Linked DNA regions of Homo sapiens: regions 2, 3 and 4 are each reported to be linked to region 1. The links are microRNA targets in miRTarBase. Many come from high-throughput screens and were not tested one by one. Region 1 holds a microRNA gene; each other region holds the end of a gene's coding sequence.

What was found. Region 1 holds the annotated microRNA hsa-miR-330-3p (GCAAAGCACACGGCCUGCAGAGA, at 2,143-2,165, shown strand). A microRNA usually pairs through its seed, bases 2 to 8, with sites in the 3' UTR of a target mRNA and lowers its output. Matches are read on the target gene's strand: a 7mer-m8 pairs with bases 2 to 8, a 7mer-A1 pairs with bases 2 to 7 and ends in A, and an 8mer does both.
Region 2: miRTarBase lists NAA50 as a target of hsa-miR-330-3p. Seed matches in the 3' UTR shown: 7mer-A1 at 2,740-2,746.
Region 3: the mRNA of BCAS1 is a reported target of hsa-miR-330-3p. The part of its 3' UTR that is shown has no 7-base or 8-base seed match.
Region 4: the mRNA of DHX35 is a reported target of hsa-miR-330-3p. Seed matches in the 3' UTR shown: 7mer-m8 at 1,906-1,912.

The regions. Positions count from the first base shown.
Region 1 is chr19:45,634,053-45,641,173 of GRCh38, reverse strand. It overlaps MIR330 (microRNA 330), which reads left to right and starts at 2,087; the gene lies at 2,087-2,180. It overlaps EML2 (EMAP like 2), which reads left to right and starts at 1,777. Exons shown (of 19, transcript NM_012155.4): 1 at 1,777-1,817; 2 at 2,301-2,329; 3 at 2,540-2,669; 4 at 6,703-6,852. The coding sequence starts at 1,798. RefSeq lists silencers at 1,483-1,572, 1,593-1,872, 2,569-2,863 and enhancers at 1,248-2,099, 2,569-2,863, 2,100-2,951.
Region 2 is chr3:113,716,080-113,723,200 of GRCh38, reverse strand. NAA50 (N-alpha-acetyltransferase 50, NatE catalytic subunit) reads left to right here. Exons shown (of 5, transcript NM_025146.4): 4 at 229-295; 5 at 1,264-6,743. The coding sequence ends at 1,441. Among named protein-coding and RNA genes, the nearest start is that of USF3, 23 kb to the right of the region's middle.
Region 3 is chr20:53,938,533-53,945,653 of GRCh38, forward strand. BCAS1 (brain enriched myelin associated protein 1) reads right to left here. Exons shown (of 13, transcript NM_001366298.2): 13 at 5,009-6,464. The coding sequence ends at 6,390. BCAS1-AS1 (BCAS1 antisense RNA 1) reads left to right here. Exons shown (of 5, transcript NR_199019.1): 3 at 1,900-2,066; 4 at 2,753-2,863; 5 at 3,643-5,049. Among named protein-coding and RNA genes, the nearest start is that of BCAS1-AS1, 27 kb to the left of the region's middle. RefSeq lists a silencer at 238-532.
Region 4 is chr20:39,037,562-39,044,682 of GRCh38, forward strand. DHX35 (DEAH-box helicase 35) reads left to right here. Exons shown (of 22, transcript NM_021931.4): 22 at 938-2,160. The coding sequence ends at 982. Among named protein-coding and RNA genes, the nearest start is that of DHX35, 79 kb to the left of the region's middle. RefSeq lists a silencer at 5,051-5,251.

The DNA of each region.
Region 1 (7,121 bases):
CCAGATTCCAGAAGCTTTGACATCAAAATCGGGGGGCACTGCCAGGTTGAAAAGGGCGTGGCTTAAAGGTTGGGCGGGGCCGTAGGGGCGTGGTCAAATGCCAAGAGGTGCAGCCAACTTGGAGGCCTCGAAGGTATTCACATAAGGAATACGTGAAAATGGACGTAATCAGAATGCCTGGCGGGCCGGAGAAGGAGCGTTGGCGGGAGGTAGCAGTCAATTCTCAAGCAACTGAGTCAACTCAGGGACAGGGTTAGAAGGGAGGCTCAGAATGACAGGCGTGGTCAACTCCAGAGGCGGGGCCATACTGAAGATCTGGACAGAGTCAAAAACTAAGGCTATATAATTCTAGCAGTTTGGGAGGCGGAGGCGGGAATCATCGCTTGAGCTCAGGAGTTCGAGACCAGGCTGGGCAAAATAGCGAGCCCTCGTCTTTACTAAAAATGAAAATAAATTAGGCCTGGCGCGGTGGCTCACGCCTGTAATCCCAGCACTTCGGGAGGCCTAGGCGGGTGGATCACAAGGTCAAGAGATCGAGACCATCCTGGCCAACATGGTGAAACCCCCTGTCTATTAATAATACAAAAATGGGCGTGGTGGCGCGTGCCTGTAGTCCCAGCTACTCGGGAGGCTGAGGCAGGAGAATCACTTCAACCCGGGAGGCGGAGGTTGCAGTGAGCTGAGATCGCGCCACTGCACTCCAGCCTGCTGACAGAGCAAGACTCCGTTAAACAAACAAACAAAAAACAAAAAACAAAAAACAAAAAAAAAAAGAGAGAGAAAGAAAATAGCCGGGCGTGCTGGCCTTCGCTTGTAGACCCAGCTACTTGGGAGGCTGCGGCAGGAGGCTCACTTAAGCCTAGGAAATTCGAGGTTTCAGTGAGCCATGATCACGCCATTGCACTCCAGTTTGGTCGACAGAGCCACACCCTGTATCAAAAACAAAACAAAACAAAAATCACCCTAAGGCTGGAGTTATGGTGCAGTGGGCGTGGTCAGCGCTAGGAGGCCACGCAAGGGCAAGACCAAGGTCAAAAGCTGCACATTTCAACTCTGCTCAAACATAGCAAACACAAATACAGCGTTGTGTATACTCCAGGCACTTCCCAATAATTAACCAATTTCACCCTCGCAACTACCCCCGGGAGGTGTGAGTACTCTTATTTATTTATTTATTTTGAGACGGAGTCTTGTTCTCGTTGCCCAGGCTGGAGTGCAATGACACAATCTCAGCTCACTGTAACCTCTGCCTCCCGAGTTCGAATGATTTTCCTGCCTCAGCCTCCCAAGTAGCTGGGATTACAGGCGCCAGCCACCACGCCAGGCTAAGTTTTGTATTTTTAGTAGAGACGGGGTTTCACCACGTTGGCCAGGCTGGTCTTGAACTCCTGACCTCAGGTGATCTGCCCGCCTCGGCCTCCCAAAGTGCTGGGATTACAGGCATGAGCCACCGCGCCCGGCCGGGTACTCTTATTATCCCCATTTTTTAAATGAGGAAACCGAGGCAGAGGTTGGACGACCTGTGTACACTGCTAGGAATTAGCAGAACTGGGGTTTTAACTCAAGCAGGCGCGCTCCCGAGTCCATGTTCTCAACCACTCTCCCCCACCCACCCCGAAAGAACCTGGGATCGGGAGTCCACAGCCCGGGATGTGTGACCCGGTGGGACCCTCCGGCTCCAGGGGTGGCTGTGGAGGGCGGGGCAGGGGCGCGGCGGCCCGGGCGCCTCCCAGGGCCGGAAGCGGCAGAGCCGGTCCCGGCTCCACCCCCGGCCCCGAAGCTCCGCCACCCGCCGCCATGAGTAGCTTTGGAGCTGGGTGAGACCCTTTCGCAGACCACCCCCCATCTCCTCTCCGCGCTCCCGGGGCTTAGATCTCAGGTTTCACCCAACCCCTGGGACCCAGACCGGCGTGGGGACACGCCCCTTCCCTTAAACTCTCCCCGTTTCTCCCTCTGCTTGACGTTTGGTGTGCTGGGGGAACTGCGGGTGGGGGGCGCTGGGGAGCACCTTGCTGATTAGGAGGGAAGGGTCCTTGGTGACTCCCTTCTTCCAGGATCGCGTCCCTGCCACTTCGTGCTGTGTGATCTTTGGCGATCACTGCCTCTCTGGGCCTGTGTCTTAGGCTCTGCAAGATCAACCGAGCAAAGCACACGGCCTGCAGAGAGGCAGCGCTCTGCCCCTTACTCGGCCCCGTTTTCATCGGAGACCTCCGGGGAGCGGTGGGGGTGGAGGAATGGTTTCTCCCCTTTTCTGAACTGAATACTAAGACCCTTTTTTTTTCTTTGTCCTTTCCTGACAGCAAAACCAAAGAAGTTATCTTCAGTGTGGGTGAGTGGGGAGATGGGGAAGGGCTCGGTGGAAGCTTGCTTGTTGGGGTGACAGGCTGGAGCCAGAGGTCAGGAGTCTTGGCTACTGGGTCTTTGCCTCTCTGGCCTCAGTTTCCCTGCCTTTAAAAAAATAAATAAATAAAGCTGGAAGAGGAGAGGGAATAGGGATGGGGCTGGTGTCAGTGCCTGACCTCTGGGGGTGTCCTGGCAGAGGATGGCTCCGTGAAAATGTTCCTGAGGGGCCGCCCTGTGCCCATGATGATCCCAGACGAGCTGGCACCCACCTACAGCCTGGACACACGCTCGGAGCTGCCTTCTTGCCGGCTCAAGCTGGAGTGGGTGTATCCTTTTGCTGGAATCTCCTTGGTGCTCCCATCCCCCCAGGAGGAAATAGAAAGGCGGTCAAGGCAGCTCAGGCCTGTAATCTCAGCACTTTGGGAGGATCGTTTGAGGCCAAGAGTTTGAGACCTGCCTGGGCAACACACAAAACAAGCACAGCACGTTCAAGGGCTATGTGGCCAGAGTGGGATTGGTGCATTTGAGCAAAAAGAGTTGGGAATGGCTGGAAGCCCGGGCTCTGGAGTCTGACAGAGATGGGTTCAAACCCCAGTCCAGCCCGTACCTGGCCGTGTGACCCTGGAAAAGTCGTCTTGACTCTGAAAAATGAATTTTATGATCTCAGGTCCATAGACCTGTGAAATAATGTGTAAAGGTACTGAGCTCATAGTATGTGCCCCATGCACAGGGACTGATAAAACACTAACTCAGCACATTGGGAGGCCGAGGTGGGTGGATCACTTGAACCCAGGAGTTTGAAACCAGCCTGAGCAACATAGCAAGACCTCGTCTTTACAGGAAATAAAATAGCAGGCCGGGCGCGGTGGCTCATGCCTGTAATCTGAGCACTTTGGGAGGCCGAGGTGGGCAGATCACCTGAGGTCAGGAGTTTGAGACCAGCCTGACCAATATGATGAAATCCTGTCTCTACTAAAAATACAAAAATTAGCCGAGTGTGGTGGCATGTGCCTGTAAACCTAGCTACTCGGGAGACTGAGACAGGAGAATCGCTTGAACCCAGGAGGCAGAGGCTGCAGTGAGCCGAGATTGCCCCACTGCTTTCCGGCCTGGGCCACAAGAGTGAAACTCCGTCTCAAAAAAAAAAAAAAAAAAAAAAAAAAGAAAAGAAAAAGAAAAAAAAAATAGCCAGCCATGGTGGCATGCTCCTGTGGTTCCCAGCTACTCTGGAGGCTGAGGTGGGAGCATCACTTGAGCCTGGGAGGTCGAGGTTGCAGTGAGCCATGATTGTGCTATTGCACTCCAGCCTGGGCGACAGAGCGAGACTCCTTTCTCAAAAAAAAAAAAAAAAAAAAAAAAATCCAAAATAATAACTCAAGCACTTACTATCTGACAGACACTGTTGTAAGTTATTCCAGGTATGAATTTATTTTTTTACAACTAGTGGCCTCCAAGAGCTCTGAGGCCTACAGTTTGGAAATTATTATACCTCCTTTCCAGATAAGGAAACTGAGGTTATAGGTAGGAGACAACAATCCTGATTCTGGGACCCAAACTTTTTCCTAAAATCCTATTGAGCTTGGAGTCCACACCCCAGGAACCCGGTCCTTGTCTGCTTCTCTCTGGGCCTTGGTTTCCTCTTTGGAGGAGCCAGGGTGGTTGGTGAAATGGCCTGGCCTTCTGGGTGCCCAGAGCCTTCTCGAGGCAGCTGGAAATATCCCCTGGAATCTGTCCCAAATGTCCTGCCAGTAGGGCTTGATAAGCATCTGATGAGAGGTGGCTGAGACTGCAAAAGTGAGGACCTCAGATTGCTCCCCTTTGCAGTGACTGCAGGTCAGAGCAGTTTCATGGGGTCAGGATATATGTATATTGACAATCATTCAGATATTTTCTTGTTTTTGAGACACCCAGGCTAGAGTGCAGTGGCACGATCTTGGCTCACTGCAACCTCCACCTCCTGGGTTCAAGCCATTCTTCTGCCTCGGCCACTACAGTAGCTGGGTGGCATGGGCCACCATGCCTGGCTAATTTTTTTGTGTGTTTTTTAGTAGAGACAGGGTTTCGCCATGTTGGCCAGGCTGGTCTTGGACTCCTGACCTCAAGTGATCCACCTGCCTCGGCCTCCCAAAGTGCTGAGATTACAGGCGTGAGCCACCGTGCTTGGCCCATTCAAGATATTTTCTGAACATCTGAGACATAGGGCTGGGGACCCAGTGCTGACCATGACAGCATCTGCCTGCCCTCCTGGGGCATACAGTCTAGCATGGGAACAGACTCATTGAGAGTGACAACCCAGAGTGTGCAAGACTGGGATGGGGAATCCACAGGGACAGGGCTGACCCAGCCTGGAGTCATGGAGGGCTTCCTGGAGGAGGAGATACAGAAATGAAAAAAACAAAACAAACAAACAAAAAAAACAGCCCAATCTCAGCCACCATGGAACTCACAGTCTTATTGGGGAATATGAGCAGTTAACAAATAAACCAGATAACTATCAGCTTGGGCAACAAAGCGAGATCCCATCTCTACAGAAAATTTCTTTTTAATTAGCCAGGCAGGCTGGGTGCATTGGCTCATGCCTGTAATCCCAGCACTTTAGGAGGCCAAGACAAGTGGACTGCTTTAGCCCAGGAATTTGAGACCAGCCTGGGCAGCATGGCGAGACTGCATCTTTACCAAAAATATACAAAAAATTTGCTGGGCATGGTGGTGCATGCCTGTAGTCTCAGCTATTTGGGAAGCGGAGGCAGGAGGATCACTTAAGCCCAGGAGATTGAGGCTGCCTCTTCTGTCATTTATAAGGACACTTGTGATCGGATTTAGGGGCTACTCTGATAATCCAGGATGATCTCATCTTGAGATCTATAATTATATCTGCAAAGACCCATTTTCCTTGTAAGGTCACATTTGCAAGTTGTGGGGATTAAGAAACAGACATAGCCCGGGCGCGGTGGCTCATGCCTATAATCCCAGCACTTTGGGAGGCCGAGGTGGGCAGATCACCTGAGGTTGGGAGTTCAAGACCAGCGTGACCAACATGGAGAAACCCTTTCTCTACTAAAAATACAAAATTAGCCAGGCATGGTGGCGCATGCCTATAATCCCAGCTACTCAGGAGGCTGAGGCAGAAGAATCCCTTGAACCCGGGAGGTGGAGGTTGCCGTGAGCTGAGATCACACCATTGCACTCCAGCCTGGGCAACAAGAGCGAAACTCCATCTCAAAAAAAAAAAAAAAAAAAAAAAAAAGGAAACAGACATTCATTTTTTTTTGGAGTGGGAGGGGACCATCAGCCCACTACAGGGGTGAGAGTGGAAACAGAAAAACCTCATTCCAATGACCTTGTTGAGTCTGGTCCTCAGCCAGTGTGTGTGATGCAAAATACATTCCTCGGCTGGGCGCCAGCGGCTCAAACCTCTAATCCCAGCACTTTGGGAGACCAAGGTGGGTGGATCACCTGAGGTCAGGAGTTGGAGACCACCCTGACCAATATGGTGAAACCCCATCTCTACTAAAAATACAAAAATTAGCCTGGCATGATGGCATCTGCCTGTAGTCCCAGCTACTTGGGAGGCTGAGACAGGAAAATGGCTTGAACCCAGGAGGCGGAGGTTGCAGTGAGCTGGGATCATGCCACTGCACTCCAGCCTGGGTGACAGACTCTGTCTTAAAAAAACAAAACAGGCCGCGCGTGGTGGCTCACGCCTGTAATCCCAGCACTTTGGGAGGCTGAGGCGGGCGGATCATGAGGTCAGGAGATTGAGACCATCCTGGCCAACATGGTGAAATCCCATCTCTATTAAAAATACAAAAATTAGCTGGGTGTGGTGGCGTGTGTCTGTAATCCCAGATACTCAGGAGGCTGAGGCAGGGGAATCGTTTGAACCAGGGAGTCGGAGGTTGCAGTGAGCTGAGATTGCACCACTGCACTGCTGCCTGGAGACAGAGCGAGACTGCGTCTCAAAAAAAAGAAAAAATAAATAGGCTGGGTGCCGTGGCTCCCAGCACTTTGGGAGGGCGAGGCGGGTGGATCACAAGGTCAGGAGATCGAGACCATCCTGGCTAACATGGTGATACCCCGTCTCTACTAAAAATACAAAAAATAAGCCGGGCATGGTGGCGGGCGCCTGTAGTCCCAGCTACTCAGGAGGCTGAGGCAGGAGAATGGCATGAACCCAGGAGGCGGAGCTTGCAGTGAGCTGAGATCACGCCACTGCACTCCAGCCTGGGCGACAGAGTGAGACTCCATCTCAAAAAAATAAATAAATAAAAAAATTAAAAATAAATAAATAAATAAAAACAAAACAAACAAACAACAACAACAAAACACATTCCTTAACCAGCCCCTGGGTGGCTCCAGCTATGGCTACCGTGGCCGAGACTGCCGGGCCAACCTTTATTTGCTGCCCACCGGGGAGATAGTGTACTTTGTGGCCTCCGTAGCCGTGCTATACAGCGTGGAGGAGCAGAGGCAGCGACACTACCTGGGACACAACGATGACATCAAATGGTGAGATGTGGGACAGAGGGGACGGGAGGGAGCTGTGGCTGGAGATGGAGCTCCAGCCCCTGCCCCTCTATGCCTCTTTTCACATTGCTACCCTGTGGGGTTTGGGGCAAGGCTAAGCCTTTGCTCCCTCTCCAAAGCCACCAGCTGCCCTCAGGCTGAATTTAGTGGGAAAATGTGGATTGAGTATCAATATTTCAATATTTCAGGTGTTTTAGTTGGGTGTGGTGGTAAGCCCTTATGGTCCCAGCTACTCAGGAGGTTGAGGCGAG
Region 2 (7,121 bases), not on the chromosome of region 1:
TTCTTCTACCCGGAAGTGCTTGTTTAAAAAGGTTAGTCTTCTGCTAACAGTTTTAAACATACGTAGCTATTGTAGAGAGAGAACACAACTTTGGAAAATAAGGATATCTAGTGTATACCTCATAAATTCTTTTAGGACTCAATAAGTAGTTCAGATGGCAAGTGGATAGATACATAATTTAAAGGTTGATTTATGAAGTCACGTGTTTGTTATTTATTTTATTAACAGGAACTAAAATGTTAAATCATGTCTTAAACATCTGTGAAAAAGATGGTACTTTTGACAACATTTATCTGTAAGTAAAATAATATTTAATGTTCTTATCAAAGGGGTTTAATTGGCAGGAGAAATCTTTACTAGAAACTTTAAAATCTGGTCACTTATTGTGCCTTTGGAAACACTGTGGAAGTAGTTGTTACAAAGTATTCGAGTAGTTGTTAGTTTTGTTTAGTTTTGTTTTATTAATAATAGTAGATTAGGAACCTGAGATAGAACACATTGCTTTATTATATTAGGATGAGAGCACCAAAGTCACAGGGATGAAATCAGGATTAAAACTCAGGCCTTCAGAATTCAAGACTATTAATACTACTTTTCTCATGCAAAACCTTGTGTGTTTTGTTCAAGGCTATGTTGATAGCTTTGAACATTGTAGTAGATCATTTGTAGTAGAGTTTAATAATCAAAATCAGAGATTACCTAGCTGAGATTGTACTTGAATCTCAAGAGGCTGTAGATAAAGAGTTATGACTAAGATCACAGTCATGGATGTTCATAATTTAGTTTGGCCATGTGAGAGATTGAATTATACAGTGTTATTTTGGGAGTAATTGAGAAAGCTTGCGTTTTTAATTTTTAAAACATACCATGTATTTTATCAATCAGAAGGAAGATATATCTTCAAGCTTTGAGACCCTAGTTTTTTATTTTTCATCATTTTTTTTCTGTGTGTTAATAGGGCCTTTTAATAATTTATCCTCTTACAGTGAAAAAATTTTGATAGCTGTGGTACTTTTCCCTTTGTTGACTACAAGAATAAACACTGAGCCTTCTAATCTCAGCCAGCTGTCTTACAAATGTAAAAATTAGATTAAAAGTGTAAAATTGTCATCAAAAGGTTTTAGGTAAGCATGCCTAACCCTTGTTGATTACTGGTAGTTGTAAAGAGAATGTAACAGATGTTTGGAGCTATCTGTGGAGAATGCTTAAAACTTGATGAAACCTTAATTTTAATTTTTTTTCTGATACTCTCTTATATCTCAGGCATGTCCAGATCAGCAATGAGTCGGCAATTGACTTCTACAGGAAGTTTGGCTTTGAGATTATTGAGACAAAGAAGAACTACTATAAGAGGATAGAGCCCGCAGATGCTCATGTGCTGCAGAAAAACCTCAAAGTTCCTTCTGGTCAGAATGCAGATGTGCAAAAGACAGACAACTGAACAAATTACAAATGAACTTTCTTGCACTTGCTTGTCGCCAAATAAAAGAGAGGCCCATTGATTCCTCCCCCACCCCAACACTTTTCTTTTAAAGCTTTTCTCCCTCCTTGTTCTTGTTTTTCTTTCTTCCTTTCCTTTTCTCTGAGAGTTTTAATACTTTCAAGGACTTTAAAAAAATAATCATGTTTGAATTGTTTTCTCTTATTTTTGTGAGGTGGTTTGAAGGAAGGACAAGGTAGATCTGTTTAGTTTTGCAGTTGAAGTTAGATGGTCCTAAACATTTAATTGTCAAATAATTTCAAATTTAATGTCCTGCTTTCACATTGAAGGGCAGAGCCTACAAAACATTGTATATTTCAAAAGACAAAAAGAAGCAGCAGCAGTATCTTGTTCTCTAATTCATAGACAAGTTGAGTGTGTTTGTGGTACTTTGGGTTTTTAAACACTTTGGGATACTAATCCCTAGACATTGCCTTCACTCCACCTTTAGTCCTTCTGAGCACTCTCTCGGGAGTTGGAACATTGTTATCCTTGTAAGAAATACTAAGCTTATGTTGATTTTTAAGTAATTATATCTTCTCTTCTTGCTGGTGGGTGGGGCAGTTTGGTTTAGTGTTATACTTTGGTCTAAGTATTTGAGTTAAACTGCTTTTTTGCTAATGAGTGGGCTGGTTGTTAGCAGGTTTGTTTTTCCTGCTGTTGATTGTTACTAGTGGCATTAACTTTTAGAATTTGGGCTGGTGAGATTAATTTTTTTTAATATCCCAGCTAGAGATATGGCCTTTAACTGACCTAAAGAGGTGTGTTGTGATTTAATTTTTTCCCGTTCCTTTTTCTTCAGTAAACCCAACAATAGTCTAACCTTAAAAATTGAGTTGATGTCCTTATAGGTCACTACCCCTAAATAAACCTGAAGCAGGTGTTTTCTCTTGGACATACTAAAAAATACCTAAAAGGAAGCTTAGATGGGCTGTGACACAAAAAATTCAATTACTGTCATCTAATGCCAGCTGTTAAAAGTGTGGCCACTGAGCATTTGATTTTATAGGAAAAAATAGTATTTTTGAGAATAACATAGCTGTGCTATTGCACATCTGTTGGAGGACATCCCAGATTTGCTTATACTCAGTGCCTGTGATATTGAGTTTAAGGATTTGAGGCAGGGGTAATTATTAAACATATTGCTTCTATTCTTGGAAAAATAGAAGTGTAAAATGTTAATAATACAAATGTCACTGTGACCTCCTCCACTGAGAGGACTGGTTTATGCCAGATCATTTTCCGGCACACACGGAGTGGCTTTGACAGATTGATAACTTTGTAAGATGGGAGACATCTGAAATATTCATGTTTTCCTTTTGTAGTCCCATCTCCACTATTTAGAAATGTTCTCAGACTTTAAAATAATGCACAGGGCTTGAGCTTTCTGTCATTTGACTTTAAAAGGAAGTTTCATTCATATTTATCCTCTTATGTAAAATTGCGGTATAAAGTCTCATTTCCAAATATGTTAAATGACAAAATTATTTTATAAAATGTTTATGCACACTTTATAACCTTAAGTTTTTATTTGAGAATGTGAAAGTACAAAGTGCAGTAGACTTCAACAATCTTGAGTGCCAAGAATAATACAGAAAAAGAAGACAGTTGATGAATGAGTTTATAGGGTTCTAATCTTAAGATGGTAAAAATGTAGAAAGACCTTGCTGGTTTTTTGGGGGTATTCGTTTCTTAAACAATCCAAATCTAAGCTTAGAAGAAAAGTTTAGCGTTAAGCACCTTTATCTTCATGAATAAGCTTCAGCTTGCTCTTGGCAAGAGAAGAGTGCTTGAGTTACAGAAGGCATAAGTAGTTTGAAGAATGCAGCAGCCTTTTTGTAAACTTCCCAGATATCAAAATAGACTTTGATATATAAATGGTTTTCTGAGATGACACTGCCTCTATTTCTATAACCATTTCACCTGGACTATCTAATCAGTCCTATGAATGTATCCCTAAATGTGGTTATTGAAAACCTAATAGCTGCCTCATGACAAGTACATGTTATTTAAGGAGGAAAAAATATTAAATTTTGAATTGAGTGTGTAGGCTCCCTATCATTATATATAGAGTTTCTTTTTCCACGGTAGTCAGTGACTTAACCTGAATTGTAAATGTTTGTAAAGGGTTAATTGTCCTACATCAAACTTAGTTAAATAATTCCATCCACTTATGGAGGAGGAGGAGAATGTGGAAGAGGTAAAAAGCTGGGCACAAGTTCATATGCCTATGAGTCAGTAAAGACTGAAGTAATGTCCTATGTTGAGCTGGTTATTTTGATATATGATAATAATTATCTTTGAAGTAGAACAATTCTGTTAACTGGAAAATCACAGGATATATCCATCATATTTTTCAGGACAGATAGTTTTTACTGTGGGGCAAATAGGTTAAAATTACACTATGTTAGTTGCATTTAGGTTTTAAAGCAAAGAATCTGTAGAGAAATCTATGCAATATATAGTTTGTCCAGATTAGCTTTCATTTGGGGAATGAAGTTCTGAAATATCTAAAGCAGTTTACTCATCAATTGAAAAGTCCTCCAAAAAGAGAACTATTGGGAAACCATGGTGTGGTGGTGGAAAAGAAAAGCTCCCTCAGTTTTTTGGAGGGAATAACTTAAAAAAATACTTAAATGGCTAAGTTTACTTGGTGCAGTTAAGAATTAAACTTGTCAATTTTAACATTGCTGTTACATCTGAAATAAACTTATGTGATGTTCTGGTAGTGATCTGTGATATCTGTAAATGTCAAAACTGTATTGTTGAATTCTGCAGCCAGCAACCGTACATACTCATTGTGTAGTGTTTCCCTTACTGCTTTTATTTACTTTCACATTTAAGATCTAATTTTAAAATCATTAAAATAGGCCAAGTGTAATTAAGGCATCCTAATTCAGATCTTCTGTGACTTGCTAGGTACAGTGCCCAATATCTACAATTCAGTTCCAATGAGAGGGAAAAAGTAAGATCCAAGGAACTGTCTTGCTGCTGTATTTTTAATGTAATTATTAGAAATACTTGACACTTTAGGCTGCAATCTAGTTAGTAATGTTTATTGGCTACAGACAACATATTCAGGTGTTTTGTTTTTCTTCCTTGTAAGGAAGGAGTACGGTAGTTCAATGAGTTGGGAATTGGCTTTTAAGCTTTTTATCAAACATGAATTTAAGATTTTTTCTTTAACAGAATTCAGTATTTAATATTTCTAGTCAAAATTGTTATAATTAGATTTTTGCTTTTTTCATTTAAGAAGCAATGAGTGATCCTTGTCTAGTGTGTCTCAGTTATTACTGTAGTTTAAAACAACAAACAAGTATTACCTTCCACAGTTCTGGATCAGGAATCTAGGAGCTGCTTAACTGGGTGGTTCTGTCTTGAGATCTCAGAAGGTTGCAGTCAAGCTGTTAGCCAGGACTGTACCATCTTGAAGCTTGACAAGGCTAGAGGAGCCATTTCCAAGATGTCTTGCTTACGTGGCTCTTGGGCTTCTGTTCCTCACTGTGTGGGTATCACACACAGTGCCTGATGCTCACGTGGCTCTTGGGCTTCAGTTCCTTGGGCACCAGTTGCCTGGTGGACAACTGGTATGTGGCTTCCCCTAGAGCAGGTGATATAAGAAAGTGAGCAGAAACCATACTTTTTTATGACGTAGCCTCAGGTGACATTATTTCTGCCATATTCCATGAGTCACACAGACCAACCATTGAATCAGCTTGGTATAGTGTGGGAGGGGACTGCACAAGGATGTGAATACTGGGAGGTGGATATCATTGGGCCCTCTAGGAGACTGGCTATCACTGCTCAGAGAAGATGCTGGGCTTCGTTGACTCCCAAGGTCAGGGTAGTTTTGGTTAGGTTGTGTTTTATTAGTCTCTAAAAGGAGTAGTTTTCTAAATGAGGGTTATAAAGCACTGCACTTTACAGTTATTCGGGATATAAAAGAAATAGTGGGTCTAAAGGCTGTGCTCTTGTGGTTGGGTTTTCAGTGGGGAGGGGAGACTAGTCTGTCTCAGACTGATGCTGTTCTCACTGATTTGAATATTTCTGGGAAATTGGATACTACAGTCACAAATAGGAACAGTAAGCCTATAGAAGTTTTTCAGGGAGTAAATATTTTCTATGGCAGTGTCCTGAATTGGTTCTCCCTTGCAAGACTGAACTGTAGGAACTTAGTCCTAGTTTATGATACAGCCAAGTAACATAGTCACATGGGAAAAAGAGCTTGAGTCAGATTTCTTAATGTGTGTTGTTAACTTGGTAGAACATTGAGAATTATTTAAGTCAGAGAACGATCTGTTACTGGGGCAGAAATTCTCAACCTTTTCAGTTCTCCAAAATTTAAGATACTTGATTTCTTAGGTAAAATGTTTTTGTTTTTGTTTTGGAGACAGAGTCTCGCTCTGTCGCCCAGGCTGGAGTGCAGTGGCGCGATCTTGGCTCACTGCAAACTCCGCCTCCCAGATTCAAGCAATTCTGCCTGAGCCTCCCAAGTAGCTGCGACTAGAAAGCGCATGCCACCACGCCTGGCTAATTTTTTGTATTTTAGTAGAGATGGGGGTTTCACCGTGTTGCCCAGGCTGGTCTCAAACTCCTGAGCTTAGGCAATCCTCCTGGGGCAGCCTCCCAAAGTGCTAGGATTACAGGCGAGCCATGGCGCCTGGCCAGTAAAATGTTTTCTATCTAGAATGAATCAAGGTATTTTCCTTGCTCAGTAGCTTCTAGAATAAGAAAAAAATAGCAGCAAGATCTGATTCAGAAATAGTTGGGAGCAGAAAGTTAATATGAAGGAGTTGCTACTTGTTAACAGCCTAGAGTTGAGATCTAGAAGAATTATTACCTTTTTAAATTTGTGATGAAAGCTTAAATCCAGCATTTGGGAAGTTACTCTATTGGCTGAACTATTTTGGAGTTTGTAAGCTTTGTATTAGATATTCCTGATTTAACTGAAACTAATTTGCCACATAGCTTTAATTTCATCCCAGTTTTACTTGTTTTACTGTCCTCAAAAACTCAAGACATCTGAACTCAAAGGATCTAAGCAGTATAAATTAAAGCACATGTTGAATCACTGTAGCTTTCGTAGGACATCTGATTATAATGCTTTTCTTTGTTTCTTTGTCCATACTGAACTTGTCTAGTTTATCTTTGAGAAACATTTGCTAGTATCAAAAATCTTCTGTAAAGATTTGAACAATCTTGAATTCTCCTTGTCACTAGCCATCTCTTCCCCTAAAGTATAATAAAACTGTCAGGTACTATATGTGTAATTGCTTATGCAGGTGAAATTTGAATACACAAACAGTAAATCCCAGTTCTCTTAGTAAGATGAAGGCTTTGTTATAGCACCTTTAAAACAATTTTATAACATCCTTCATTCTTATCACTTTCCTAAGTAAGAAACGATCTTCCTTTAGTGGATATAAAAGTTGTACATTGTTTCTGCAGATTTACTGGGTGCCTACTATTCTGAACTCTAGGGATACAGCAGTGAGCAAGGCAAAAAATATCTGTGACTTCTTTAAATAAAGGTAAGTAAAATTCTAGTTTAAGCAGAATTCATGTCTAAGTGCAGGTCATCCTATTTACTAAAATGAATCAGCTCCTTCAAGGATCTTGATTTTACCTTAATTTTGAATTC
Region 3 (7,121 bases), not on the chromosome of region 1:
TAAGCATCTTCAGGGCCAGTCTTTGGACCAAACATGCTGTTGATGCTCAGTGAAGTGGTAGCTCTACCTGGACCAGTGGTTTTCAAATTTTCTCCTTCATTGGAACCTCCTGAGAGGCTGCTAAAACACAGGTTACTGGGTCCCACCCCAAGAGTTTTTGATTCTGCGGGTATGGAGTGGGGCTTGAGAGTTTGCATTCCTAACATGTTCTCAGGTGGTGCTGAGGCTGCTGGTCCTGGGACTGTACTTTTAGAACCACTGGGCTGGTTACCTGGGAAGGGTAGATGTCTGGTTAGGGTGATCAGACATTCAGAGCTAAAACAAATTCACACTAGAGGATAAGGCAATCCACAATGGGTGTGGCCACAGGATATTTGTTTAGCAATTTATCCATTCAACCAATATTTGTTGAGTATCTACCATGTCCAGGCATTGTGCTAGACACTGACAATAGAACAATGAATGAGCAAGACAAGAAGGTTCAGATCTTGATAAGTTCACATTCTAGTGGCACTGCTTTGGAAGGTGGGGGCCGTCATTACACAAATCCCATGGGTGTGAATTGAAGGGACACAGTTAGTTTGGGGAATGGTTAGCCTTAAAGCCACTGATACCAATAATGGCTTTACTGTCTACTGTATCATTGTATTGCCTTCTCAACATGATTTCACCAAAATGATTCATTGAAACTGATTATGGTATTCCCATAATCCCCTTGCCTGGAACTGCATCCATCATTCAGCACAGTTTTAGGATGAAGTCAACCCATGGAACATGGCAGAATGGAGTGTCAGAGAACCAGAGCCAGGCTATGAGACTTAACACCAGTTATATGAAACGATACATTTCCTCATTATCGTTGTTAGCTGGAAGAGAGTCTCAGAGAATCAAAGCCAAAGATGTTATACAACACCTATTATATGAAATGATAAATACCCTTATTGTTACGATTATCTGCCAATTCAAGTAGGGGTTTTCTGTTACTTGGTGCTAAAAGTTCCCCATGATAGAATAGCTTGCCTTTCCTAAGTGCTTACAATGTGCCAGCCACTGCACTAAATGTTTGGTATGCACCATCTCACTGCATGCTGGCAGCAACTCCACGAGTAGGCTCTATTATTAGCCCATTGTTGAGGGAGGACACTCAGAGTTTAAATCACTTGCTCTTTAGTTGGGAGTGGAGAAGATGAGAGGTAAGGCTGCTTTGTGGAGCAGGATGGGCCAGTAAGGATTACTTAAATGCATTGCAATGACACCAACTGAAACGTTTTGCAATCACACAATCTTCCTTGAGCTTCTTCCAAGATAGAGCAGATAAGGATGGAAACACAAACCAACCAACCTTATCTTCATTTGGAGGACTGAGAATCATAGAAGGCAACTGACTTGCCCAGTTCAGCTTTCTCGTTCTAGTTCTCCTAATTAAACTTGACTGCTTTCTAGAAGTTAATCAACAAATACACTCTCAGGCTGCTTTGGCCCAGTTTCCCGGTTAGGCAATCAGGGAAAAAGGGCTAGGCATTGTAAAACCCCAGGTCCTGCAGCTCCCCCACGTGGCTGCATTTTGACAAAAGCAAGCTTCTGAGAGAGTAGATCACGTAAGGAACCAGCCCTTCCATGGCTGTCATTAGCAGAAGTGCAGCTGGGGGCCATTTTGTCAAGAAGTGCTTATTTGGAAAAACAAAACAAAACAAAAAATGAAAAAAAAAAAAAAAATCTATACAGGTGCATGCCAGTCCCCCGGTAATGAAATGTAACAAAGGAAGCACTTAAGTTCAGTGAGGGAAATACAGCTTTAAATTACAGATTGTACCCAGAGCACTTTATAAACGGTAATGTGTGATAATGTATTATCCTTACTTCTGTGAAATTGTGGACTGCAACTTCTGCCGGGGCCAGTTAAAGGGCCAGGAGATGGAGAGGGTTGCGTGAATGCCATTCAAGAAAAGGGCAACAGAGGCTAAGGGGTTAAACTCCCCAGAAAACCAATTTATGCAAAGGGCTGGATCCTGACCGGCATTCTGCACTAAAGATCTGAATTACAAATTTAGAGAATTTGCTGCTCGGTAAGTAATTTCTTTTCTTCCTAATGGAGACTATAATTTCCAGTGGGCCGGTGCCACTTAATTTGCACTGATAGAGTGAACAAAATCTTGACCACGGAGAAGCCTAATTCTACTCACCGTGCAAAATTGCCCTTTAAAAAGGCTTAAAGAGGGACATTCAAAGGATGGTTAAAACCAACCCCTATAATCTTACATTGCTGCAAAGCACATTCCCTAGTTTCCCCTGTGTTTGTATCTTGGGTTAGTTAATAATTGGAATTAGTTCTTTTTCCTTCCCTGTAAGGTAGGTAGTGTAGCTGATTTTATTTTTTTAAGGTATAAGATCTACTTGGGATTATCTGACATAAGAAATAACATTGTCAGATTCAGATTGGAGAAATCTGCACCCTTCCAGGCACTCTGAGAAGGGAAAGGACACAGATTCTTGGTTTCTTGAAATCTAATTCTTTAAGACACTTAGAATCTAATTTAATGAGACCCCAGTGCTTCTGGACTGTTTGCAAACAGACAAGAACAATCTAGTGTGTGTGAAGTGGGAGGAGGGAGGGGAGAGAGTGTGTGTTTAAACCCCTGATAATTTATCTAAAAAGCAAGGGGATACATACAACAAAGACCAGGAATTTCACTTTCTTTCTCTTTTCCTTCCCATTTTGGTTTCTATTTTGTTATGTGCCTCCTTCTCCAAGACAACGAATGCAGGAAGGACCTCACTGGCTGCTGGGAACAACTGCCCTTTTGAATGAATTCTTTTATGGTTACCAGTCAAAAAGTCACCGTCAGCTGGAACTGGAAGGGAGGTGTGTGTGTGTGTGTGTGTGTGCGCGTGTGTGTGTGTACGCGCAGTGGCAGCCATTTCAGCTCAATAGCTCCATTCCTGGAAAGGCCACTTCTTCTTGACATGGGAGAAGACACACTTCCCTGTGTACCTAAAAATAAATAATAAGTAAATAAATAATAATAATAAGAAAGTCATTTTTGCTCCCTCCCCCAGGTCTTAATTCTTCTTTCTCTTTTAATCATGTTTTTCTGTGTGCCACCTTTGCTTTGCTTATTTCCCCCACTGCTTGTTCTGTCTGATGGCATTTCTGGGAATCTGTGTCCTAAAGGCTTTCTTGGGTTTATTGGTGAGTTTCAGCTCTTTTTCACTCTAGTTCTGCATAAGGGGTGGGCATTAGTATTTATTGTAAATGCATTGGAAATGGGATCTCAACAACAATAACACACACACACACACACAAACACAAAAATGGAGTATTAACTTGTTTCTTAAGCCATAACTGAATTTAGAGTTCTCCCAGTAAGTCATGCGCTTTACTTCTCTCTGGCATTTCTTGCTTTTTTAAAAAAAAGCAATTTCATTAAAAGACTATTCTCTTTTTTGGCCCAGGAGCATAGGAAACCAGTTATAAAAACTGTTGGCATGCTTTGCAGAGAGATTCTCAGCAAAGAGGCTTTTTTTTTGTTTTATTTTGTTTTGTTTTGTTTGAGTGGGGGCTTGGGAGGGCTCCATCTGCCTTAGTAACTGGCTAAGTAACTGGCCTGGGCTACTCAGTCTGTTTCTCTTCCTCCTGCCTAGGGGCATTTCTTATCTGGGCAAAAAGCCCCTGTACCCAGCGAGGTGAAACTTGCAAATGATACTGTCACCTTCCTCAATGGACTGCAGCTCAGGAGCTCACCAAAGGTTGCAGCAGACAACCCCCACGGTGTTTGGAGACAAAGGAATAGCAGCTGCCTGGTTTCCTTGAATCACCCCGTGCTCTGACGATGGCAGTGATGGGCCTCCCACCAATGGCTTCCCCAAGTGCTGTTTTCCTGCTTCATGCCAAGTTAAGCATTCTGATACTAAGCGGCACGAGATAGTTCTCAACTGGGTGAGGCACAGGTGTGAGTAATCTCGAGGTATGGTCAGGAGGTTTGAAAAAACTAACCCAGCTGCAAGGAAAAGACCTCTGGTCTTTATTGGAAACACGAATTTGACCTGTCCAAGCTGGGAGCTAATAGGCCCCAGCAGCTCAGGATCCCCTCCTCACTTACGCTTGGGTTTTGAGTGATACCATATTTTTCTGAACACATTTTCCAAATGCCTATTTGCCAAAGCCGTGGTGTAATTTGCCTAAGCAGCAAACTTGTCCTTAGAGTCGAGGTCCATCCACATCAGGAGAGTATATTCAATGTTTATCTCCGATCAATGTGTGATGAATTGCATATGAGATAGATTTGTGTGAGCCAATGTGTGTGTGTGGATCTGTGTTAGTTACATGTGTTTATTTGCATGTATGTAAATATGACTGTGTGAGTGCATGGATCTATTCCTGCATGATATATATTTATATATATGAATATGTGCATATATATGCAAATATGGGTATAAATATGTATCTGAACATATAGGTGTGTATCTGTAGTGGACACTGTCAATGCACTCATCCTCCAGTTACTTAGGCATCCCAGCTTCTCAGCTCAATGGGGGCCGCTTGCCCATCCCCCCACCTCCCAGGGCAGCCCAGAATTCACCTACCAGGGTTCAAAGGCTGGCTCCCTTGACTCAAGGTCAAACTATCTGGGTGGTGCAATTCATGCTCCAGTTGAAACCAACCCTTGCCCAACTCTTTTCTTGCCCTCTTCTTTTTCTCTTACTCCCTTTCCCTCGGAGCCCACTCTCAGTATATCCTATGCGTCCAAATCCCCATCTCAGGCTCTGCTCCAAGCAACCTGGCCTAAGACAGCACTATTCTATACATGCATGTGTGTGTACATGCAAACATACAACTGCACACATTTGTGTGTGTGTGTGCCCATATACAAGGAAATCCGGGAAGATCTGGGAGAGAATGATCTTCCAAAGAAGATAATGGAGAAAGAGTATGGATTTTATAATGTAGAAGTTAGAGTCATCTCAGATATAGAGTGGGACTGCTTTGAAGTTGAAAATTAAAAGATACTTTAGAAGTAAATGTATTTTTTATTAAATCAGAAAAAGAAAGATACAGTTTACATGACTGTCAGTCAATCATATGCTACTTTGAATTACATTTTAATAGACTCAGGGTCCTATTTACTCCTTTGTACAGGTATTAAAAACAACTCAGGTATTTGAGAAGTCTTCTGTAAATTTTTATTAACTGAGGTTATGGGGAGGGTTTTATCAGAGCACATCCTGAGAACATTAGGAATGACAGACACACTTGAGATAAGTGTCAGACGGAACAGATGAAGCGAGCCCCTCAGCCATCTGAGAAACATTAATAATGTAAGATAGCAGAGACCAAATCTTTGTTAGGGATACAGTATTACAGGATAAAAATGGGGACCTTGCCGCCCCCTTGTGTTGCAAAATAACCGTGCAACTTCCTTTATTTTTTATTTATTTTTTTTTTTTAAGTTGTAATCTTTGCCGTTGTCACTGAGCCTCAAAAGCAATTGTTTTCCCAAATCATTTTAAGCCCTCCCCAGTCAATCTTTTCCCTCTCATCAATAACTTACAAGGACCCTATTTGAAAAACAACGCTTATTCATTCCTTTTTCTATACCCCACACATTCCGTTCTAGGAAATTGGCAACCACCCAACACAGCCCGGGTTCTCCCTCCTTGAGATGTGAATTTAAACAAATGGATTTTCGTCTCCCTTCTTCAAGCTTAGAGGATAAGCACGCATTTACTACAACGCTTAATTCCTTCTAGCAGCATTTCTCTTCTATAACTTACTTGCCACTGCCTTTTTTTTTTTTTGATAGAATCTTGCTCTGTCGCCCAGGGTGGAGTGCAATGGTGCAACTTCGGCTCACTGCAACCTCCACCTCCTGGGTACAAGCGGTTCTCGTGCGTTGGGCTCCCGAGTAGCTGGGACTACAGGTGTGTGCCACCATGCCTGGCTAATTTTTGTATTTTTAGTAGAGACGGGGTTTCATGATGTTGGCCAGGCTAGTCTTGAACTCCTGACCTCAGGTGATCCACCTGCCTCGGCCTCCCAAAGTGCTGAGATTACAGGCGAGAGCCACCACGCCCGGCCACCACTGCCATTTTCATCACTTAACCCGAACACATTCCTCTATTCCCTCCCTTTCCTGCTTGGTGATCATCGACTCTTCTGACCCAACTAGGTGACCTGCTAAACCATCTTTACTGTTATTTGCCAGAAAAGACTGGACCAGAGACGTAAATAATACACCTCAATATACAACAGCTCGGGCTTAATTTCTAGGCAGAATTTCATTTGCTGGCCATCAGAAGAATATATACATGGAGCGTGTTTGGGGAGGAGATGGAGTAAGGAGAACACATCTTGGTGGCAGGAGAACCTGGTGGGAACCGTGCTGATTTGTTTACTTGGATTTGCCAACTGGTCCGATGGATACTGGGTCTGTTTGCACTTGAGCATCCAACATCCGCTTTGGTCCCTGGAGAAAAACAGAAAGACGTGGCAGCCTATTGAAGCTCTGTAATGTCAACAGCAACAATGGCCATTTATGTAGCACTTACTCTGTGCTAGGTGTTGGGCTAAATTAATATATCTCATTCCTCAGTGCTGGGTAAGAGAATGGTCTCCAGTCAGATGCCCGGGTTCGATACCCAGTTACATGACTTTCTAGCTTTGTGAAATCTTGGACAAATTACTTATCATCTCTTTGCGCTTTGGTTTCTTTATCTTTAAAATGGAAATGACAAACTTATCTCAGAGGGTTGTTCCCAAGATAAAGTGAGTTCATGCTTATAATGTACTTAGTACCTAGGGGGTACTAATTCTACCTCACTTTAGCTCCCTCCCCAGTTACCATCTAGGTTCACCACCCTGTTTTATTTTCTTCTTTTTTTTTTATTATACTTTTAAGTTCTAGGGTACATGTGAGCAATGTGCAGGTTTGTTACATATGTATACATGTGCCATGTTGGTGTGCTGCACCCATTAACTCGTCATGTAACATTAGATATATCTCCTAATGCTATCCTTCCCCCAACCCCCCATCCCAAACCCTATTTTATTCTCTCTCAGAACATACCACTCTCTGAAATGATCTTATTATCTAATTTATTTGTCTAACATCTGTCTTCTACAC
Region 4 (7,121 bases), not on the chromosome of region 1:
TGATGTTGTGGGGCCATGTGGCTGTGCTAAGTAGTGGGCACACCAGCTCCGGAGCAGTCAGGGTGGGCATTCTCATGTGAGGCTCCCACTGTGTGTTAGTTGGCACGGCTTAGGGATCTCTTGGTTATTGATGATTAGTAATGGGCTGTCGGGTATATCCCAGTTGATGAGTGGAGGGAGGTCTTTCATTAAAAGCTTGTATTTACACACTCTGCCTCAAAGGCATATTTAAGGATTTCTGCCACTTTTGGCTTTGCTTTAGAATGTAAAAAATACTTCATTTTCCAATCCTATTATCTGATGCCTATGATTAGAATATTGTGCTTCGTGTTATTCATAATGGTAGAAAGTGACATTTCTGGGGAAAAAAAAAAGTGTCACTAGGAGGTGTCCTTTCTGTTTTCCCAGCAAGCTTGTACCCTCCATGTGGGCAGAGGCCATATCTTTATCTCCATCCTTGAGCATGGGTACCTGGTGTGTTGAGACGCTTGGTAAATTGACTTCCTTGGTCCTAAAGAGAGGATAATTTTTCTTGACTATTGTCAGGAACTTCTTGGAGATTTGAGATCACTTCCAGACTGAGCCCAGTCTCCTGAGCACAGTTGTCTGGCTGCGGTGCTGTCCTCTAGGCTGGGGCAGAGGGAGAGTCGTGTCTCAAAAAGAAAACCTTTCCTTGACAGCTTCCGCAGAGCCCTGTATAACCAGCTTCAGCCGCTGTGGCTTGGGCCTCGGGTTGCTGGCGGCTGAATTCAGGTCGGCTTCTTCATTGGCCACTTGGGCTTTTTCCTTCCAGGCTGTTTCATGAACAGCTCAGCATTTACTGGGAAGGTGTGGACCAGATGGAAGATTTGATGTGGTCATTCATATGGGGATTATGTTGCAGTCTGGTTTCTTTGTCTAATCAACCCCAACTGTAGTGTCTTCTCTTCTGTTGCAGCACCTGTCTCTGAAAGCCAAAAGGGCCAAGGTCCAGGACCCGTGAGAGGAGCCCACAGCTACAGCTGCAGGGACTGCTGGCGTCCTCTCCTCCATGCTGCTGCCCCTGGTCCCAGGTGGGGTGAGCTGGCACCAGCTCCTGTGGAATGTTTGGTTGCTCTGAAGTGGGCTGCGGCCTGTTCATTAGTCCTTTCTTCCCGCTGCCCACAGCATTTGCATCCTTGCTGGGATCCTGGAGGACTTTGTGCATGGGCAGGCATCCTTCTGTGCTGCAGCGGGCAGAGTGGGAGTTGGCTCACTCAGCACGCTCACTAACCCAGCATGCCACTTCCAGCAGGCATGCAGTCCTGGCCCAGCTCTATGGGAAACAAGGAGGAAAGTTAGCCACTGAAGGCCAAAACACCATGTGGGGTGGACAGAGGGTTTGCTGGGCTGGCTTTGCTTTCCCTGCTGGGGCCACAGCTGTGTTAACCAATGAGGTCTGCTGCCAGGTGTGAACAAGCATGTCTCTACGAATGAACGAAACATTGGGGATCTCTGCCGAAACCACCAAAGGGCATGTCTGATGGGCACAGGGTCTCCCAAACCCAGTGGCTTCTGTCTGTCCTCAGCCCTTGTCCCTGTTTATCTGCAGCCAGGAGACTTGCAAGGGATTGGTGATTGACAGAGAGGACTCGTGCGCTGTTTTGTGTTAGCAGAGGATTTGTGTTTCACAGGTAGGCTTAGCGTCCTCTCAGAGTGTAGTGCCAGGTCCTGGTGCCACGCTAGCTGAGCACTCAGGAGAGTTCATCAGCTCAGATCCCACAGGGCCTCCTCTTTAGCAGGAATTCACAACAGTTTGGATGCCCTAAACTTCTGTAGCTCAGGAACATCACTGGTGTATTTGTTTTTTTGTTTGTTTGCTTGGGTTCTTGCAAGAGCGCGTGGGGACAGTTCTTCCAGCAGGCACTGGTTTTGTTGCCCCAGGGCTGCTTTGCTGTGATGATGATTGCATTTCAACACATGCCAGATGCAGATTTTTTCCCCCTTACTGTTTCAATGACCTTTATTTTAAAAACACATAGCTTGAAAATTTATTTTTATACTGATATTAGTTTGGATGTGCCACTTTTGGCACCAAACGTGTATGTCATTTTTATTTCCATTTTATAAACATGTAAATAATAGTGATAACTTGTTAATAATAGTAAACCTTTATACCTAAAGTAAATGTCTTCCCTCCCACACCTGGTTTTCGTGTCTGTATGTTAAGATGTTCTAATGAATTGTTCGAAGTGAGGGCCTGACATTAGCTAAGAAACTTAATGCTGTGGCATACAGCAGCTTTGGGATCTCAGGGACACAGGAAGCCCCCTAAAGCAAGATGATGTGACTGAATGACCTCAAGACCTGATTAGAGTAAACTGTGGGACATTTAAAAGAAGTCCCAAAGAGGTGCTAATTCTTGCCAGTTTCCAGTTGGGATCTTCCTGTAGAGAGGTCAGAAACATTATTTTTCAAGTTTGGCTTTAGGACTGGGGCTGATCCTAAAAAGCTTATATGGCGGTGGAAGGGGAAAGGTACAGGTTTCACACCCTCGGGTTGGAGACCAGAGTCCACTGGGAGCCCGGACAATCTGGAGGGAGCACCCAGAGGCAAGCCCGTCCCTGCATGCTGCCTCTACCCCTGGGCGCCTGATCCTGAGCACATGCTTCCCCTCTGTCCCTCCACCTCTCAGAAGGCAGCCCTCCCCAGGCGACACCCCCCAGTGTTGTGTCCTGTGTTATGTCACAGTCTGTGATGGGTGGGACAGGTCCTTGCTGTCCGAAGCAACTACAAAATCCTGGGCCCATGGGGAGGCCCCTTTACAGTAGGGTTGGTTAAGGCTGGGACCACACAACTCACCAGGGAGTGGGGCCCGGCCTGGGCGAGAGAGATGAGAGCTTTTGACTTTGTCTGTTGCAGGTCTGTGTCCCTGTTCCCATTGTCAGCCCACAGATGTGACAGCAGGGCCTAGTACCTCACAGACTGTCCCCCAGTACTTCCACAGAATTAGTCCCCTCGGGCTCCACACAGGTCTTCAGATACTGCTAGTAAAATTCCCCACAGCATTGCTGTGTCTTCCCTTTGGAGCAAGTGAGAGGGCAGAGAGAAGCTGGCGCTGGAAAGCATGGAGGCGGTGGTGCCCTGTAGGCCCAGAGATGGCAGCTTTCTGTGTTGGTGGCTTGCAGAGACCCTGCCAGTTTTCTGCCATAGCTGGCTTCCCCGGGGGTTGGACATTGTCGTCACAGGGAGCCCCTGGTTCAGCCAGTGCGCTGCTCAGTCCAGCCAGCAAATGTTGAGCCCTCAGGCCATGTGCATGGCACAGGGATGAGGCGGAGACACTTGACAACAAGTAACCAGATGAGTGGACCAGGATGGAGCTGGGCGCACGAGAAGGACAGGGTGGCAGGAGATGGCAGAGGTCCAGTAGGGGTTGTTAAGGCCAGGGCTGTATCCACAGAGACTTCCCCACGACAAGATGCTTTCCTGGTGAAAGGACAGACCGCTCTCATGTTCTTCCCTGGCCATCCCCACATTGCTGAGCATTTCATGTGGGCCATGAACTTGGAGAGCTGCCTAGTGCCCCAGCTCCATGCTCCCATCTCCACTGTTTTGTCCTGGTGTCAGCACAGCCTACTGCCAGTGCTGCTCCAGCTTCATGGGCTGGGCCCTGCCATTCAGTGCTGGGTTGTCCCCAGCACCCCAGCCCTGCCCTCAGCTCTGTTTTCCAGGGCCCGGCGCTGACAGTGTGGCTGACATTTCTCCTAGCCTGAGCAAGAATGTCTGCCGCTGACCAGACAGAGGGTTGGGTGGCTGGGGGAGGGAGGCGCAGGCCAAGGGGCCTAAATCTGGAAAACCGCAAGACTCCGTCCTGGAGCCACAAGACTGGATGTCTGGCAGTGAGGCCTGGGAAGCTGTAAGTTGTAAAAGCCCCATCTCGGGTGGTTCTGATGAAGTGGTGGGCTTGGGAATCCTGGGGACAGGAGTTGAAGATGTGAAGACATGCAGCCCAATGGACAGATAGCCCCCAGCGGGGAGATCAGAGCTTCGAGATCAGAGCGTCAGGTCTGAGTGAAAGCTGATAAATTGTTTCTTCACAAGTGTGCTTAGACCCCAGCCCAATTCCCCTTACGTGTTTCCCCAGAACACAGATCTGTGGGGTTGGGATTCTTCCCCAGGCAGGTTGTGGCAGCAGGCATCAATGTCAGCTCACTATGAATTTTCCTGAGTCTTGCAAAAATGAGGAATGTGTAGTAATGAGCATTTTATAAAGCTTAAGTTTATTCTCTATAAAAGACCATCCTTTAGTGTTTTTTATTTTTTATTTTTATTTTTTGAGTCAGAGTCTTGCTCTGTCACCCAGGCTAGAGTGCAGTGGCATGATCTCGGCTCACTGCAACCTCCGCTTCCCGGGTTCAAGCGATTCTCCTGCCTCAGTCTCCCAAGTAGCTGGGATTACAGGCACCTGCCACCACACCCAGCTAATTTTTGTATTTTCAGTGGAGACAGGGTTTCATTGTGTTGGCCAGGCTGGTCTCAAACTCCTGACCTCAAGTGATCTGCCTGCTTTGGCCTCCCAAAGTGCTGGGATTACAGGCATGAGCCACCTTGCCCGGCCATCCTTTAGTCTTTTCTTGGTGCTAAGATGCTTTTAGGAAACAATGGTGATAGTAGATGGTGGTTTTATTTTTTAATGTTTTCTTTGGAAAAATAAAATGTCAACAGTCGTTCATCTATCACCCAATTAAAAACCAATTCAAAATGATGAAACAAAAACTGATGTAATCCTCAAGTCTGGGAACTACTGGGTTGTGGCTGAGTGGGCCGGGCAGGGCATCTGGCAGCATCAGCACCAAGATCATCATTCTGGGAAGTGGATCTGAACTGCCAAGCACCCACCTGGGTTTCAAGTGAACTTTGGCGCCGCTGGAGGACATTTCTATCCCCTGGAAGAATTCGAGTTGGCAAGTCTCAGCCCCATATCCCTTTTTCACCTCAAGATAAGATCAGGTATTTTCCACTCTCCAATGATTCATCTGAATTTTCTCCTCAGCCTTCTAATTTGTGATGAAACAGGATGATGGAACTCTGGATTTCTTGTCAGTTTAATCTGTTTTTTTTTTTCTTTTTTTCTGAGTCATTGGAACTGGAAATAGCCAATCAAATAATTGCACAAACAGCTGGCTACTGTGGATGACCAGGTGGAATTTGCGTGGCAGACGGTCTGGAGAGGGCTTGTCCCTGGGTCCTCACAGTCATTGCTCCCTCCAGCAAGCAAGGATGACACGTTGACGTCTCTGGTGAATCCTGGCAGTGTTCCCTTTTGCACTCTTGGGTGGCATTGGACTTGCTGGAACAGGGCGTCTCCTTGCCTGCTTAAGTGCGGCCAAAGAGATTCCCAGCGCAGCGTTCCCCCAGGCCCTCTGGCACACATGGCCACCGCTCCCACTTGTGGGTTCTCCTGAAGGCAATGAGCAGGCTAGGGAGGCTGGGAGGTTCACAAGGGAGGGGTGGTGCAGGCACAGGATTTAATACCCCAGGATCTCCATAGCCAGGTGAACGACCAGCACAGGCTACTGCCCATGGCTTCTTGACCATGGCCTCATCAGTGGCTCCAAGTATGAACGTCCTAGCCAGGTTCTTTGCTGGCCTCAGCCTGATGGGCGGACCCATATAGGACCCAAAGGTCGCCTGAGTTCCTTTCTGCGTCCCCACCACTGCCATCAGCCTCTACATCGCCCTGGACCCCAGGAGAGCAGGAGCTGGCTGATAAGGCCTTACCAGCTCACCCTCAGGCTGTTTATTTTAGCCTCGTTCTCTGGTTGCTTTTCTTCCCCGCATTTTAGGCTTGTTCTGTTTTCAAGTGCGGTCTTCAGTTTGCTTGGTGTCTGCTGTCCCTGTGTTTTCCCTTTGCTGTTGTTTTTTTGTTTTTCCTCATGGGTATGCCTCACCCCTTTAATCTCCACCTCTCTGACCTCTGCATTATTTTCCTTTTTACTGCGAAGTTTTAAAAAGAATGCAGTCGTGTTTATTTTTAATGCTCTTCAAAAGTATTTTTTCCTCGACATTTATGTTAACGTCTTGGTCTTTTTTGTACTCTGCTTGTTTGTCTAACTATTATTTTGGACATTTGTTGTCGTGGTTCTATAAATATTTTCTTCTGTGATCTTCTTTTGTTTCTTTTTGTTTTGTTTTGATACAGAGTCTCGCTCTGTCACCCAGGCTGGAGTGCAGTGGTGCAATATGGGCTCACTGCTGCCTCGGCCTCCTGGGCTCAAGTGATCCTCCCATCTCAGCCTCCCCGGTAGCTAGTAAAGACGGGGTTTCTTAATGTTGCACAGGCTGGTCTCGAACTCCTGAGCTCTAGTGATCCACCTACCTCGGCCTCCCAAAGTGCTGGGATTACAGGTGTGAGCCACTGTGTCTGGCCTTTTCTGTGATTTTCATCTTCTACTTTAGTGTATTAGTTTAAAACTCAACAGTTGACTTCCCATTTTATTTTACTTCCTTTGCCCCCCTTCTCTTCATTTCTTTTTTTTTTTTTTTTTTTGAGACAGAGTCTCGCTCTGTTGCCCAGGCTGGAGTGCAGTGGCATGATCTGGGCTCACTGCAAGCTCCGCCTCCCGGGTTCACGCCATTCTCCTGCCTCAGCCTCCTGAGTAGCTGGGACTACAGGCACCCGCCACCGTGCCTGCCTAATGTTTTGTATTTTTTAGTAGAGATGGGGTTTCACCGTGGTCTTGATCTCCTGACCTCGTGATCCGCCCGCCTTGGCCTCCCAAAGTGCTGGGATTACAGGCGTGAGCCACCGCACCCGGCCTCTTCATTTCTTATTATGCTTAATTTGCTTTAGTGGTTGGCAAAAGGCCTACCTGTAGGTGTGGGAGCTGGGGGAAGGTATTCCAAACAAAGGATTAAATGTCAGGAATGTACAAGGAGCTCCTATAAATCACCAGTGAAAAGACAACTCCAGCAGAAAAAAATGGGCACAGGGAATGGAAGGCAATGTATAGGGGCAGACCCAACACTCCACCAAACCACTGAAGAGATATTCAAAGTTAGTCATCAGGAAAACACAAGCTAAAGCAACAATTAGACATCACTCTGCACCAATGAGATTAGCAACACAGTGGAAAGGTGGCGGATGGAGATGCGGCGGCCTC